Homo sapiens: one gene and its partners. The protein of the gene in region 3 purifies or fractionates together with the protein of the main gene of each other region. This does not show direct contact. Each region holds a gene or a part of one and is shown on either strand. Other genes may lie near its edges.

Region 1 (3,773 bases), on a different chromosome or scaffold from region 3:
AATGAAAGCCCTGGTCATCAGCACTGTGAATTATTTACCGATTTCTTCCATAGCACTTGCCATAAATGATAATTATGTTGCTGCTTTGTATTTCCTACTAACCTGTAAGTCTCAAGATGGCAGGGACTTTATGTAAACTCAGCATTTAGTATATGCTTAACAATTAATAGCTAAAAAAAAAAACCGAGGTACTGAATGAATAAATTATAGGATCTCAAACATAATCTATATCCTCCCTCCCTTAATATCTTCCAGATATGACTGCTTCAGATGGATTAAGGTCAAACTCAAATTTACTATCCCTGCCAGGCGCGGTGGCTCACGCCTGCAATCCCAGCACTTTGGGAGGCCAAGATGGGTGGATCACTTGAGGTCAGGAGTTCAAGACCAGCCTGGCCAACATGACAAAACCCCATCTCTACTAAAAATACAAAAATTAGCTGGGCATGGTGTCGCACACCTGTAGTCCCAGCTACTCAGGAGGCAGAGGCAGGAGAATTGCTTGAACCCGAGAGGCGGAGGTTACAGTAAGCCAAGATCACACCACTGCACTCCAGCCTGGGCGACAGAGCAAGACTCCATCTAAAAAAAATAAAATAAAATTTTCCTTTTTTTTGTTCAACAGTTATTTTTTCCTACTATCAAGGTCAATGGTAAAAGCAAACCTACTCGAAAAATTAAGAACTATAAACATAAGCAGAAGGCCCTTTTAAAATATAAAGGTATATTGCAGGAAACTGGAATATTTGTAGTAATAAAAGCAACTGCTGGCTTGATATAAAGAGACAGCCACCAAACCAACCAATAGAATGGCTACTAGAGCAGAACTACTAAGCACTCAAAGACCTTTAACTGGTAAGTGACAGACCACAGGTCCCTGTGGGACTTTCTGAGTTATGGTGGTTGACCTGTAGTCTAAGGATGTCAATCTGCTCAAACGTTGTTATTCCTTCAAGAGTAGGAGTCCTGCCATCACTAGTTCAGATGTCTGAGGGAATTAGGGTGTAAGATAGTTCTGTTATAATAACCACTGAGTGGGAAAAATGAGCCAAAGAAGAAACAGCTAAGATCGATGTTGTCACATTTAGATCTACAAAATCATCAGGTAAAACCCACATGACAAAATTCTCCTGGCCAAACAAAATGTATAAAATACGCTAATATGCAAACCCAAAAGCTACAGATCCTGCAAAACACTTCACCAAGAAGAAAAAAGAAAACTAAGCTTTCTGATATAACTGGAAAATTTTCAATTACGAAACACTTCATTATAGGTTTAACACCAACACTCCATCAGAAGGTTGAAAATTAAGTTTTTCACTGCCACAAAGAACACTGTGTTATGAATCTGTCCCACCTGCAGGCAGCTTCTTGTACTCTCTTGTTGCTGTCCAGGATGCGCTTTAGCAATTCTGTCATTAATGGCTTCAGGTACGTGTCTGGCGGCTGGCTGACCACCCAGTGTGCATAGCGGCTAAGAGTCCAGCATGTTATGGAACGCACAAGAGCCTTTTTATCAGAGAGGCACTGAATAAGGTGAGGAATAAGCTCAGGCAAGTATGGAATCATGCCCTGCATGCAACCTAGAAAAAAAATAAATCTTTCAAAATGCTAAAATTTAGTTAACATTATTTTGGTTGATTATGAAAATAAAACACGTATCTATGAAAAAATTCAGAATATTTCTACTGCTATACACATACTACAATAACCTATACCAAAATTATTTTTAAAACCCTGAAGTTAGAGCTACCTGCTCCCAAGCATCTTACAGTGTTTCAATTTCTTCTAATAGATGTTTACTGCCAGGACAAAATCAATAATAACCCTTCATAGAGAATGAAGAGAGTCTTGCCTTATTGTGTTTCCTATACTTACCTAAAGAATCAAGGATTTTTTTTTAAAGCAATGGGGATGCTTCAGACATCAGAGCCTTTCATTCTGTTCCCTTAATTTTTTTGTTTTTATTTTTTATTGAGATGGAGTCTTGCTCTGTCACCCAGGCTGGAGTGCAATCGCACGAATTCAGCTCACTGCAACTACCACTTCCCAGGTCCAAGCAATTCTCCTGCCTCAGCCTTCCAAGTAGCTGGGACTACAGGCACATGCCACCACGCCCAGCTAATTTTTGTATTTTTAGCAGACGTGGTTTCGCCATGTTAACCAGGCTGGTCTTGAAACCATCTCAGGTAATCCACCCGCCTAAGCCTCCCAAAGTGCTGAGATTATAGGCGTGAGCCACCATGCCTGGCCTCTGTTACCTTTATTATAACAAAAACATTTTGCAAAATATCTAGCTGGGGTTAGAAGACGGCCTATGGCTGTTTAATACTAGTTATCTGGTTCAAAATAGAAATTCCTTAAAGTAGCCTAGCCTTATTAGTACCTAATAGTAGTAAGAAGCCAACTTACATAATTCAAACTGGACTTAGGCTTACCTTCAGCAATTGCTCCTAAAACCAAAATGCCTGATTCTTTAACAACCCATTCATGATGAAAAAGTAATTCTTTCAAAAGGGGCAAAATATGTGGCAGCAGTTCATCACGATACACATTTGCAAGAACATCCAGGGCAGCAGCAGAACATTTTCCTAAGGAAATATTTAATTCAAAAATATTACATTAACCTCTTATTACTTATATATTATTTATTGTATATGTAACATTTTATTCGTATCTCTAATACGGAGTTTTAAAATAAGAATTCAATTGAATAGGAGGTAGTTTGTCACGTGAAAACATTTTGTGGTTTTTTTTTTTTTTTTTTTTTTTGAGATGGAGTCTTGTTCTGTCGCTCAGGCTGGAGTGCAGTGGTGCGATCTTGGCTCACTGCAACCTCTGCCTCCCAGGTTCAAGTGATTCTCCCGCTTTAGCCCCCTGAGTAGCTGGGATTACAGGTGTGTGCCAGTACGCACAGCTGATTTTTAGGAGAGACGGGGTTTCACCATGTTGGCCAGGATGGTCTCAAACTCCTGACCTCGTGATCCACCCTCCTCAGCCTCCCAAAGTGCTGGGATTACAGGTGTGAGCCACCATGCCCAGCCAAAAACATTTTCTATTAAGATGAATATTTTTTATGACAAGAACTTACTTGGCAAATTAATTGTGAACACATTGTATTCTGTACATAACTGTCATACTAGAATTCTGTCTATACAGTAAAACAAATACTGTGCCACTCAATTCAGTGCTTCTAACATAACCATTCAATATGATACACTCATATTACAATCATGATTACAATCACTGTTACAATCACGCAAAAAACATACATTATTAACTCTACTTAACATTTCCAGCAGTATATCATCTAGAATTAAACAGACAATTACTTAGCTGGACTTTAGACACAAAAACTGGAAGAAAAGTCACTGGCACATGAAACATAACGCATGCTAGAAAATACTCTTTACAAAGAATTAACTATGGGACTATAAATCAACCCAGATTTTATTATAATAATAATTTAGACAAGAGCAACAAAATCAAAAAGAACAACAAAAATATCATTTAACTGTTATGGGTAGGAACGTGTTCCTGAAGTTCATGTATTAGAAACCTAATCCCTAAAGCAACGAAGATGGGAGGTGGGGCCTATCAAGAGATGATTAGGTCTTAAGGGTTCTGCCCTCATAAATGGGTTAATGTCGTTACTGTAGGAGTGGGTTAGTTATCAAGAGAGTTGGCTTATTATAAGCGTGAATTGAGCTCTTAAGTGTGTCCTTCTGTCATCAGATGATGTTGCAAGGAGGTTCTCACCAGATGCAGCCCCT
Region 2 (3,773 bases), on a different chromosome or scaffold from region 3:
GTTCAGGGGCAGCTGTTTTGAAAACTCCCTGTGTGTCAGCGCCTCAGCAGAATTCTCAGAGCAGGGCTTGGGAATCTATGTTTTAATTTAGGATGAAGAAATCCTTTTAACAAGTGATCCAGTCCACAACTGCTGTAGGTTAGGCAACACTCCCAGATTAGGAAGAGTGCTGGCTTTTGTCAACCAAATGGGTAAGGGACTGAATGGACCAAAATGGGTGTCAACTCTTAACAGTTAGTAACTAGCTCGAATGCCAGTCCCACCCCACACTGACTGGTGCATAAAAACAGAACTGTGTTCAGAGTAGGAATATGGTTGGCCAGAAAGATTTATGAATTAAACTTAGAAAATGAAGAAAATGCACAGACCAGACATTTGTTTTCCCACACTAATAAAATATGTGCATATGGGTTAAACAGACACTCTGAGAGCTAGAGAAACTCAATCAAGACAGTGTCAGGGGGCCAGGCGCGGTGGCTCATGCCTGTAATCCCAGCACTTTGGGAGGCCGAGGCAGGCGGATCACGAGGTCAGGAGATCGAGACCATCCTGGCTAACACGGTGAAACGCCGTCTCTACAAAAAATACAAAAAATTACCCGGGCGCAGTGGCGGGCGCCTGTAGTCCCAGCTACTCGAGAGGCTGAGGCAGGAGAATGGCGTGAACCCGGGAGGCGGAGCTTGCAGTGAGCCAAGATAGCGCCACTGCACTACGGCCTGGGCGAAAGAGCGAGACTCCGTCCAAAAAAAAAAAGACAGTGTCAGGGGACAGAATATATACATATGTATAGCTATAAATAAATGTATTTGTATTATACAGAAATACATATACAAGTACGCTTATTTGTCCCTATTACCCCAATCACCCTAGATTCCCGATTGTCCCTCCCAACATTTCATTCCTGCCTTGCTTAGCGTATCAGGTGAGTCTTTCTATTTTTTCACTTACCAACAGCTACTGTATATCTACCATGTGTATCTTCATATATATGCAAAGAGCTATAACATTACAGTTACACTACCTTAACATTACAATTACGACTATGCTTTTCACTGATGCTGAGAAAGTGAGTCACCTCCTGGCATTATGTTTATAGACTAATTTATTCACCACATTAGCCATTCAGACTTCTGAAATATAAATCTTTAAAAAATTTTTAAGAAAAAAACTTTTGGAAGAAAATTTTAATAGATGTTGCTGTTATTTTCTCTTCTGTATAAAAAGCTTCTATTATGTTTATAAACAACATTGTTTAAAAGAAGTATTTAGCTAATACAACGCTTGTTTAAAAGTAGTCTTTAGCGTATCACAATCCTTCAAGTTTTCAGCAAGGTTCCCAACTTAGAAGACATTATTCAAATAATAAAAAGACCTCATCTGCCAAAATCTGTGTAATTCATGGGACTGACTCAAACAATTGTCACAAATCCAATTTCCCTTCCAAGGTTCAGGAGTTGGGGCCTACAATGACGACATCTCATTCCACTCTCAGTGTCACAAAATACATTTCAATAAATATTACCTGCCAGTTATGTATCAACTCCCAGGTTGAGAATACAATAACAACTAACTAGTTCTAGTAAGTATCCTTATTTGTCCTTGTTACCCAAACCGGGTCATTGGCCCCAACACCCTGGACTTCTGACTGTCCCTTCCAACAATTCATTCCTACCTTGCTTAGGGTATCTGACAGGTCTTTTCCATTTATTTGATAAACAACAGCTCCTGTATATCTGTTATATATAAAGCCCTGTGCTAAATATTCTCCATATTCTACACACTTGAAAAATTTCTGTTTGTTACTTTATAGCTGTCTCCAATGGAAGCTGCTCACTGTCTAACTTTCTGAACCCTATCAGACCTAATACTTGTATGCAAAAAACCCTCATGCCATTTATTTGCTTCCACAATTCTCTACCCCTCCTATAGTGGGTGCTGTGGTATGGGGCTCCCAGCTGCAGGGAGCACTGGTAGCGGACAGTTGTCAGCTGAGCTCCTCTCTGGGCATTCCATCATAAGAGAGCTTCCTCACTTAGGTCACGGCACTTCCCTGGACCAGCCCATATTCAATGCCTGGTTGATGCAGAAGCATAAGACTCAGCCCCCATATTAGGTAGGACAGTGACTGGCCAGCTCAGCTCCAGAAGTCCCCAGAGCAGCAGCTGAGGCCCCAACTGCAAATGCACTTCGGCCTCTCCCTCTGCCCAGTCCTGCTTCCCTCATCCCTCAAGACGTATTCTGAGAGCACTCCCTGATAAACCTTACGCAAATCCCACTTCCCTGGGAAGCCAACCTACAACGGGTGCTACCAGGAGTGGTAAGCAGCTCTCAATTTGGATTTTGGAGCTGGCTTGCCGGCCACTGGCTGGCAATGAGGACCCTGTCCCTGGTGGTAGGGGGGTACTGACAGCACCTGTCATAGAGCTGTAGTGCAGCTGATGCAGCTCTCACCAATGGGGACCTGGGATGGAATGCTGGCGGAAGGGAATGTACTGGCTGATGTGTTATTCTGGGAGTTTAGGAGGAATCAGCAATTTTAAGGACTTATATCAGACGGCTGTGGCTGGGGCCATGGAGAGGGATGGTGAGATGAAGTGTGTAACTAATCACCAGTGAAGGTGAGTGCCAAGGGCAGGAGCCTCCTCCCCGGCAGAACAAGACTCAAATTGCACCCAGAGGATAGAAAATGCGTGGGTGAGGTCTGGGGCGGAAGGGATTCAGGGAGTTTGGCATTTCAAGCCCATGAGACCTCCCACACCAAGGTCAGGGTCCTGATTTGGGAGGAAAGGCAACCTAAAGCTGGGTAGGGGGCCCTTGAGGTCAATGTTGTAAAAAATCTTGAATCCCAATTCTCCTGACCCCTCTAGCCCTGAAGCAGCAGCTCAGTGTCTGGTAAAGGTTGGCACTTCCTCCACCTTGGAAACTGGGCGAGGGGTGGGTGGGGGTTTCTGCCTAGCAAGATACGTGCTGCTCTCAGGAGGGCTCTCCACCTCCCCTCCTGGCCAAGTTACAACACGACTGGGCATGAGAAGGGTGAGAAGAACAATACTCGGAAGGAGCTGGAGGTCCCCCCGGGGGGGGGGGGAACATAGACACCACTGCTTCTTAAGGGTGGTGTGTCAAGGGCACAGAACACAAAACCAGCTGAGAGTTGATCAGCATGGGGCACGCTCCTGTGATGAATTTAGCAACCAGGCAAGCACCCTGGGAACTGATATGCAGCTGGCTAGGTCTGCTCCTGGAAACTTCGAGACAGTGATGGTCCACATTAAGTAAAAGTGACAGAACAGCCATGGCAAACTGGACGAAAGGCTCAACAGCCTCCAAGAATGGGGATGCTACCATAGATATAAGATATAAAGCCCGAAAACCCACCAGCTGACTATGTTCTTAGGAGGGACAGGAGGACACTGTGTACCAAAGCCACAAGGAAGCCACAGTTACATCTTTATAGAGCAGGATGCCCTGACAGAAATGGAGATGAAAGAATTATGAAGCAGAGACCAGGCTGGGGTGTTAAACAGAAGCCAAGGTGGGTGCAACCATCATAACTAATGGCAAGGCTGGAGTGGCAGTCGGGAGTGTCTGACCTACAGAAAGCAACAGAGTTGATGACTAGAACACAGTGTTTCCAAAGGGAAGACACAAGGGCAGCGGACAAGGCTACTTCTGAATTACACAGTCATGAGAAATTAACTACAGATGATTCCTGAGGCTGAAGGCAGCTGCTCTAATGCAAAGTCCTGAACATTGCCCCAGTTTCTGGACCTGAA
Region 3 (5,163 bases):
TCACCACGTTGGCCAGCCTGGTCCCAACTCCTGACCTCACTCCTGACCTCAAATGATCCTCCCACCTTGGCCTACCAAAGTTCTGGGATTACAGGTGTGCACCATGCTTGGCTGACCTCCCATTTTCTACCACATCGAGTTTAAAATCCCTTGCTTGGTTTTTAAAGCCCTGAGTTCCCCACGCCTCCAAGAAAACAAAGAAGATTAAAAATTCAAAGGAAAGTTGAGAATGGAGCTGACTGTTCCTCTACTTGGCAAAGGCCTCATGTCTCTGATATGAGGCCAAAATGTTTATCAGTGCTTCCTGTGCACCAAGCATGTTTCTAAGTGCTTCATGGGTAGGTCATAGAGCCCCACAGCCTTCTATTATTACATTTTACAGATCATGAAACGGAGGCACAAAAATGTTAAATAACTTTCCAAGGTCACACAGCTTCTGAGAGGTGAAGTCAGCATTAAACCCCTCAGCCCAGCTCTGGATCCCTGGATCCCATAACCTCTCCAGAAACATATCCTACTTTAAGTATCCTTTTTCTGCTTCTGTGCCTAAGGGCATATCTTAACTCTGAGCATAAATTTCCTTTAGGGTCTGGCAGGCTATGGATAACATTCCTAAATTCTTTTGCAGTTGGAATTTTGTATCACAATGGGTGTTTTTGTAAGTATTTCAATGAGGATTGTGAATCCAGCCCCGCTAGTAACTATCATCTTAATTCAGAAGTCCTCATGGAATTATGTGAATATAAATTTGGTTTTAATGACCACTGTTATTTTACAGACGAGAAAAATCAAAGTCCAGAATGACTAGGCAACCTCCAAGACATAGAACTAGTTAGCAAACCTGGGATGGGAACTTGAGCTCACCCTTACTTGGTTTGTTCCCTACTATGCCTTGCCAGCTAAACTCTCTAAGAAGCTGCTGAGGTGCAATTGCATCTTTCCTTACCTCTTTCCAAAGTGCATCCTCAAAAGCCACAGGCAAACTTTGATTTGAGTTTTTTAGCCTGCTTGATTTCTACTTACATAGGAAAATGGAATGCACACCCTTACCTGAGAATTTCTCAAATTAGGCTGGTGACAAATACCTTTTAAAGCTCCTTTATTTGACATCCTATTAATTTTTTTTAAACTCCCATTCTTTTGTTCCTGACAGATCTGTTATGTTTCAGATGTGACACAAATGTACACTTAGAGGGAAACTTCTTTAATAAGTGATATTTGCCTCAGACTACTGAGGTTATTTTAGAAAACAAAAGCCAAAGTACACTTACCAGGACATTCACCTTTTCATAAATTTATCCGGCATATTTAATTGATCGAGATTTCTGAGTTAGACAGTTATCAACGCATGTGGTAAATCGTTAAGCGTGTGGCATTAATGAAAGGTTTTGCCGTTGTCGTGGGGAGGAAGCTTCCTGGCACATGGATGACAGGGCCTCAGAGACAATGCTGCTTGGGTTAGTAGCTGGGGCAGGCTGCATTTTATTACACGTGTCCAGAATCTCATAGTAGTCACGTAGACTTTAGGAGGGGGAGGCAATATTTGTATCCCTACTAAAACCAATTATGGCAAACACTAATTATTCAGATTTGAGCCCTTTACTAAAAAATCCCCTGAACTGGGTTTTTTAAGTCAGGCTGTCGTAGCAGAGCCAAGCAAGAGAGAAAATAACGGAATAATTGGAGGCTGCTGTCTTTTCACTCCCCACATGAAATTATTTGAAGAGACAGGCCAGAACTTTAAACAGGAGATACCAAGAAAAGTTGTAATTTGGATGTCGGCTGTCATGACTTTAGGGTGTTTGCTTAAAGGACTTTTCCCTCACTTTCTCTCCTTCCCCAGACGTACTTCAATGACAATATCCTCACCCTGATACGGACCCTGGTGACCGGAGGAGCCACGCCGGAGCTGGAGGCTCTGATTGCTGAGGAAAACGCCCTTAGAGGTGGCTACAGCACCCCGCAGACACTGGCCAATAGGGACCGCTGCCGCGTGGCCCAGTTAGCTCTGCTCGATGGGCCATTTGCGGACTTAGGGGTGAGTCCACAGCACCGAGGTCACCTGAGCTTGCTGTTTGGGAAAAGCTTGATCCTGAAGAACGTGGTATCAGATGTGACAAGCTAGGCATCTGGCTTTTCTCCTTCCTATTGTAGATAACTGTAAGAGGTGATATTTATTTATAGTTTACTCTGGATCAGACACTTTGCTCTATGCATAGTCATTCATTTTAATCTTCATAGCAACCCTTTGATATAAGTTCTAGTATCACACCTTCTAAGTCAACTGAGGCCCAGAGAGAATGAGCACTAGACCTATTGGGAATTTGCACCAAGGCATCCTGGCTTCAGAGCCAGTGGGCTTTCTCCCTCCTTGGTGTTCTCTTCACGTATCCTCTGCACAAGGTGAGAAGCAGCAGGTGATGCCAGCATGCAGCCAAGGTTGGGAAATATTTCCACAGGCTCTTAGCGTAGCTTAGGGATACTCAACCCAACTATACATTAATAGCACATGGAGGTGGCCAGCCTCAGCCTGCAGGTTTCTTAGTTTTTATATGTGAATAGGACCCAGGCACTGGTGGTTTTCAAAGCACCAGGGTAGTCAGTAGTCAGATGTATCCAGAACCACCGGCCAAACAAACCGAATCTTATGTGGATCCTTTAATGCCTGTAAATCAAAACCTAGACCTTGTAATTTCTGAGAGTGGACCCAGTCACGTTCCCTCATGTCCTCCCTGTGACGGAAGTGGCCAGCGTCTCCCTTCTGATTCCATGTATCTGCCTAGTGTAGGCACTGTGACAGAAGTGTGCTGTCTTTGCCCTTATTCCCAGCCCAACCCCACAGATGCATTTAAGAGATGCAGCCATAAGTCACAGAAACTGATAAACCTGTTACACAAACAATGGTGTCGCCCAGAAAGACTAAATAGTGGAAAAGGAGCCAAGGAAAGGGTCTGTCTCTGTTTTTTCTGAAACAGTGCTGCATACTTTCCCCATATTTTAGTTTGATCATGGACTGGGACCTATGTTAGACTAGGCTTTTTTTGAAAGGGAATTTTCATAGCTAGTGGCTCTTTATACCTATCATTTACTTATTGATGCACTTGATTAGGATAAAGACTTTAGATAATGGTAAGATTTGGTCCCATCAGTGTTCTTTGGTATGAGACCAATATGAGAATTCCAATGATTGGAAGGACAAAGACAGTCATTTTATACCCAGTGAAGCCATCCCGCAGTGCCCAGTGCCCTTCATATAATACAGGTAACATCTACCTGAAGCCACCTGGCCGCTGAAGCCAGCATTTCCAAGTGGATGCATTTGCTTTCACTTTCTGCATCAGGCCCCAGACCCCGGGAAGGTGGCTGTGAACTGATCAGAACTGCGAATCCTAGTTATTCAGCCTGCAGACCCCTGGCTCCTAGGGAAACACATTCTCTTGCACCCTTGCCATCTCTGAGGTCTGTAAATTGTGCTTTTCACAGGGTCCTTACCTCCTGAAAGAGTCTGTCACCATAGGACCTGGTGGGGTCCTCCTCCTTGCGGTGGTTTTCATTATCACTCAGACAGTTTTGACAACACGAGCCTATCACAGCGGTTACAGCTGAGCTGGGACTGAACATAATCACCATTTTGCAGAGAAGGGTTCATCTCCTCAGCTGAGCATACATCTGAGACCATCAAGCTTTACACTTTGACTTAAAGTGAGGGAGAAGCATAATCTCCTTAGAGCTTTCAAACCCCACTGCGACAGGTGGAAAACTGGAGAGACACCAGAGGAAAACCCCATTGTTACCTGATCCCTAAAAATCACACATATTGGGTGTAGTCTGTTAAACATGTTGACTTCTTCCACTGCCGTCCCTTGGCACATGGACCCTCCAACTTGGGAGACACCAAAACAAGCTTTGATGAAAAGACCCGTTTCCCTGCTGTCCCTTGATTTTCAGGCAAATAAAAAGGATGTTTCTCTCTGTTCTTTTGCTGTCTCCCAGGATGGTGGTTGTTATGGTGATCTGTTCTGCAAAGCTCTGAAAACATATAATATGCTTTGTTTTGGAATTTACCGGCTGAGAGATGCTCACCTCAGCACCCCCAGTCAGTGCACAAAGAGGTGAGTATTGGTTTCAACTCTGCCCTCCCACCTAATCACAGAAATATTAATATCCTTTCCTGTCCCCTACTGTAAAGGCAAAGGTCTGTATACATCTCCTCAACATGCAAATTACTCTGCCCATATTAAATCCAACACTGAGTTTGGAGGTGATGGGAAGCATTTTTCTATAATTACTAATAGTAGATGTAAAGACATTTTGGTAAGAATTCAAGTTTTGTATTAATAGAATAATTCCATCACCTAATTACAAAAGTCTGAATACACAAACATCTCTCCCAAACTCTAGCTACTAGGATAACATCTGTTGGTACCTAATATAGAGATATTTTACATTGCTAGTGTTTAAGATAAGTTTTTTTGTTTTTTTGTTTTTTGTTTGTTTGTTTTTTGAGATGGAGTGTTGCTCTGTTGCCCAGGCTGGAGTGCAGTGGCACAATCTTGGCTCACTGCAACCTCTGCCTCCTGGGTTCCAGTGATTCTCTTGCCTTAGCCTCCTGAGTAGCTGGGATTATAGGCACACACCACCACACCCAGCCAATTTTTGTGTTTTTAGTAGAGAGAAGGCTTGTTGGCCAGGCTGGTCTCGAACTCCTGACCTCAAGTGATCCACCCACCTCGGCCTCCCAAAGTGCTGGGCTTACAGGTGTGAGCCACCACACCCCGCCCTAAGATAAGTGGTTCTTCTGCCATATCTCAGAATCCCATATTTTTACTTCACATATTTTAAATTGACTCGCTTTTTAACTTTTATATATTTATTTTTGAGACAATTATATATTATCACCTTAAGCAGAGAAATAACAGTTTAGATGTGCCAATTATATTTTTCTCATATGCATTAAAATAAATTCATAGCAGGCAAAAATTAAAAGTACATCCTAGAATTACCAAGATCAGTGAGTTTGCATAATATACCCTAGGCAACAGTGCTGCAGAGACAAGCGTTTCTCATCCCTGCTTGCATAGTAGAATCACCTGGGGAGCTTTTAAAAAATATTCTGATTACTCTAACTTAACTGGTCTGGAAGGAAGAAAACATCATATATAT
Region 4 (3,773 bases), on a different chromosome or scaffold from region 3:
GATGCACATCAGGAGGTAGAGACAATGGCTCTTTGAATCAAGGACAAAGAAGGAGAGTTCATGGGGACAGTTATGGCGAAAGAGTAAAGCTGCACTAAATAAACTGGTTACAGAGGCAATTCTGTTTCCAATTTTGCTCCTTCCATCCTCTTTGGCATCTACCCTCCAATAGAGGCTTCTCATTTCCTGAAGTCTCTCCCCTAAATCTCTCCATCCATGCATTCCCCCCTGAAACCTGCTCCCAGGTAGATGCTATAAATTCTCATTCTCACACTTCACCACATCTAAGATGATTAACAGGTGACGTTCTTATTTCCTTAAGTTCCCAAAGCTTCCCACCTCCCCTCTACCCTCCTGGAATAGCTCCCGGTCATCTGAGACTCAGTGCATACATTCAGACACTCTTTATGGCTCCTTAGTCTGTGCTCTACCAATCTCCTGACCACTCCCCACCCTTCCAATTTCAGAGACAATTTTGATAAGTGGCTCAGACTTCCTCTTTCTCCTAAGTGTGATCACCACCTTAGAAAGTGTTCATATGAACAAGACATCCAACATCCTGGCCTGATCATTTCTTGAACTCAAGTACGGTGACTTCCATCCCCAAACCACCTAAGCTACTCACACCCTGACATTCCCCTAACATTTTTCACACTACCAACCCCATCCTCCTAGGACCACTGTCTTCTAACCCTCCAGTAAGCCCTTACTCCAACGATGCCTATGTCTTCCTGCCTCATTTCCACTCCTCCTCCATCTCTCCTGGACCTCTACATTTCCTTAAATGAAGCACTTTTGTCATCTGCCATTGGGGTGAAGAAAAAAAATCATACAACTTCCTGAGAAAATTGGTTTCGTTTATTATTTTTACTACTCTTTCTTCAACTTGCTAATTTGGCTTTCAACTCCACCACCCCACCAAACTGTTCTCACTGAAGTCATCTTGTTGGTAAATACTGAACTAAATCTTCATCCTGTTTCTCAAATCAGACCACCGGCTCTATGAGTAGGAAAACCAGCCACTACATCCCCAGGGCCTGTGACAGTGAACTCAATTCCAAATTATCTGGTTACTTTATAACAAACTCCCTCTGTGAGTCAACAGTTGGTTCTAATCAAATATTAACTTTATGCTTTTTATTATATACACTTCCAGTATTATTTTTAAAGTTTTCAGCAAGGTGCCATGGCTCACACCTGTAATGCCAGCACTTTGGGAGGCCGAGGTGGGAATACTGCTTGAGCCCAGAAGTTTGAGACCAGCCAGGACAACACAGGGAGACCCTGTCTCTCCAAAAAATTTAAAACTTCACCGGGTGTGGTGGTACACACCTATAGACCCAGCTACTCAGAAGGCTGAGGTCAGAGGATCGCTTGGTTGAGGCAACAGTGAGCCATGACTGTGCCACTGCACTCCAGCCTGGGCAACAGAGTGAGACCTCTCTTACAAAATTTTTTTTTACTCACTGTGGTGAGTCACTGTGCCCAGCCATGCATTATTTTTATAAACATTTGAATAATAAAGTTTTCATGAAATAAAAAATGTAACTTTCCTAACTTTGAGGAGAGACAGAAGGAAGAAAGGAAAGAGAAACTATCTGGGCTCTGGGCTCCTGTAGATACCCATCTCTGCCACCTTCCCACTCTGGGTAAAGGCACCAGCTTTGACCAGCCACTTGCCAATCACCAGCACGAAGAGCCACTCACAACATGAGAAGCCTGAGGCGCACACAGGGTATTTCTCCTCCCCTGCACTCAATCTGTCTGTTTTCCCTGTGAGGCTAGAGTGAGCTAATGGGAGAATCTCTCATCACTCCAGGCTACAGAAAGTACCAGCTATCTTCTTGACACCCTGATCCTTGTTTATTTCTCCCCAGTTCAGTGTACTTATTTATTTGCAACATCTGACATATTTCTAAAGGTAATAAAGCAGCAGCAAAAAATATCCTTTTAAAAAGGAAGGACTTCTCCTGTCCCTGCAGTGCCAGGTCATAATCTAACTTGGCTTTAATGAACAAGATCAGGGGTTAGCAAACTACAGCCCATGGGCCAAATCCAATCTGAACCTGTTTTTAAATAAAGTTTTATTGCAACACAGCCACATCCACTTATTTAACATATCATCTATGGCTATTTTGATGATATACAGTGGAGTTGAATACTTGTGACATTTCCACTAGTTATATGCAGAACAAGCAGAGTATGAATGTTTCAGAGATATGCGTGTATAGCGACAAAATGGGACTCAAAATAATTATACTGGCCATATATCCTTCCCACCTACTATGCTGCCCCACATTCCTACAAGAACTGGTTAAAGGGATAATCACTCCACAAATGTGCACAGACAAAGGTCACCAAACAATTATCCAGCTTTTAAAAATGTTCTGAAGTGATGATAATCCAAGTTAGTTTTGTCTCATTACTCTAAGTTCTTTGTAATGCTTAAGCCCTGTCCATCACTGAGATATGGTACAATAGGGTTAAGCCCTGTTTTTGTCTGCACTGTTCACACACTACACGTGAACAATGCAAGTCTCACCTCCTCAGCTTTGCTCCTGACCTCAGTAGGTATCTGATTGCTCTTACGGATCTTCAGCTGCTCTTTGGCTTTCTTCATGTCCTTCTCCACTCGTTGCCAGTCAACTTTGATGTACCCAGTATGGTTTGCAAGCTACAGTATCAACAATAATGACAACAAGAAATGAGAAACAGATTTGTTATTTCTTTTAGTCAGGATAAATCCTGAAGTAGACTCTCGAAACCCTCTGACTTTCCATTTTTGGAGACATCTGCCATTTGATTCTTTGTATCATGATGACATCTACTCAGCATCCCCCCTATATGCGAAGCCATATGCCTGGCACTAGAAATAACTACTGGCAATTCTTTTAAATTATTTATACTCTTACAACCCTTTTACAAAGAGTTACATAAGATGAAAATCAAGGTGGGGGGTCAAGATGTAGGGTGAAGAGATGGACCTTACAGCCAATACAAATGTTTCCAGAGAATGACTCTGACAATGTGCCCATGAGTGTCAGTTTCCTGACAATGTGAACAGAGCAAAGCATTCAGGCAGTTATTACTGTTGCTTAACAGGAAGAAATCTAGCATCTGGCCCCACAGAGATTTCTCATGAGCAAGTTCATATAAACGGATATTAAGAGAACCACATCCAAAGACACCTACAGCATATACCTATTTCCCTTGATAAAAACAGCAGGCACAAACACTAAAACTCAGTGTAAATCTGATTCAAGCATGTAGATTTTGATGATGGATTAATATCATCCTAGGAATGAAGAGAATGACTGTAGCCAATCAATCAATGCCCTATCAATATCACTTCTCTCTACCAAATTTTTGGCAATCTCAAAATATCTGAAACTAAAAGTCTTCACCTTGCTAGAGTCTCCTCCTGCATTGTTGCTCTTCCTCTAGGCCCTATTTTAGCTAATGGCACCACCAGTCACCCAAACAGACTAGAGAAAATACTTGTGATGTGTATCATAAACAAAACATTGATACTCAAAAAAGTGAACTTCTTATAGAGATCAGTAAGAAAGTTCACTTTAAAAATGGGTAAGGGCAATTCAGAGGAAAGTGTCCACAAAAAGGAAAAAGTTCAACTTCACAAGTAATCAAGCCATAGTACCTTTATTTATGAGTCTATAACTGGAAATACACAAAAGTCTATCAACACATGAATGGATAAACAAATTGTATCATATTTACACAATAGAATATTACTTAGTACTAAAAAGAACAAA

Evidence for each region. Proteins that work in one complex are often made in the same cells at the same time.
Region 1: the proteins of KCNMA1 (region 3) and TNPO1 purify together in Homo sapiens (affinity purification with mass spectrometry, with the first as the bait; one large-scale study listed by BioGRID). This does not show direct contact.
Region 2: the proteins of KCNMA1 (region 3) and TIMM21 purify together in Homo sapiens (affinity purification with mass spectrometry, with the first as the bait; one large-scale study listed by BioGRID). This does not show direct contact.
Region 4: the proteins of KCNMA1 (region 3) and FUNDC2 purify together in Homo sapiens (affinity purification with mass spectrometry, with the first as the bait; one large-scale study listed by BioGRID). This does not show direct contact.

The regions. Positions count from the first base shown.
Region 1 is NC_000005.10:72,885,888-72,889,660, reverse strand, and holds part of TNPO1 (transportin-1), read right to left. Parts: intron 2,592-3,773; coding exon 2,439-2,591; intron 1,584-2,438; coding exon 1,358-1,583; intron 1-1,357. UniProt on the Homo sapiens protein: Functions in nuclear protein import as nuclear transport receptor. Serves as receptor for nuclear localization signals (NLS) in cargo substrates.
Region 2 is NC_000018.10:74,151,250-74,155,022, reverse strand, and holds part of TIMM21 (mitochondrial import inner membrane translocase subunit Tim21 precursor), read right to left. Parts: intron 1-3,773. UniProt on the Homo sapiens protein: Participates in the translocation of transit peptide-containing proteins across the mitochondrial inner membrane.
Region 3 is NC_000010.11:76,888,400-76,893,562, reverse strand, and holds part of KCNMA1 (Calcium-activated potassium channel subunit alpha-1), read left to right. Parts: intron 1-1,843; coding exon 1,844-2,038; intron 2,039-3,993; coding exon 3,994-4,112; intron 4,113-5,163. UniProt on the Homo sapiens protein: Potassium channel activated by both membrane depolarization or increase in cytosolic Ca(2+) that mediates export of K(+). It is also activated by the concentration of cytosolic Mg(2+).
Region 4 is NC_000023.11:155,050,571-155,054,343, reverse strand, and holds part of FUNDC2 (FUN14 domain-containing protein 2), read right to left. Parts: intron 2,675-3,773; coding exon 2,543-2,674; intron 1-2,542. UniProt on the Homo sapiens protein: Binds directly and specifically 1,2-Diacyl-sn-glycero-3-phospho-(1'-myo-inositol-3',4',5'-bisphosphate) (PIP3) leading to the recruitment of PIP3 to mitochondria and may play a role in the regulation of the platelet activation via AKT/GSK3B/cGMP signaling pathways.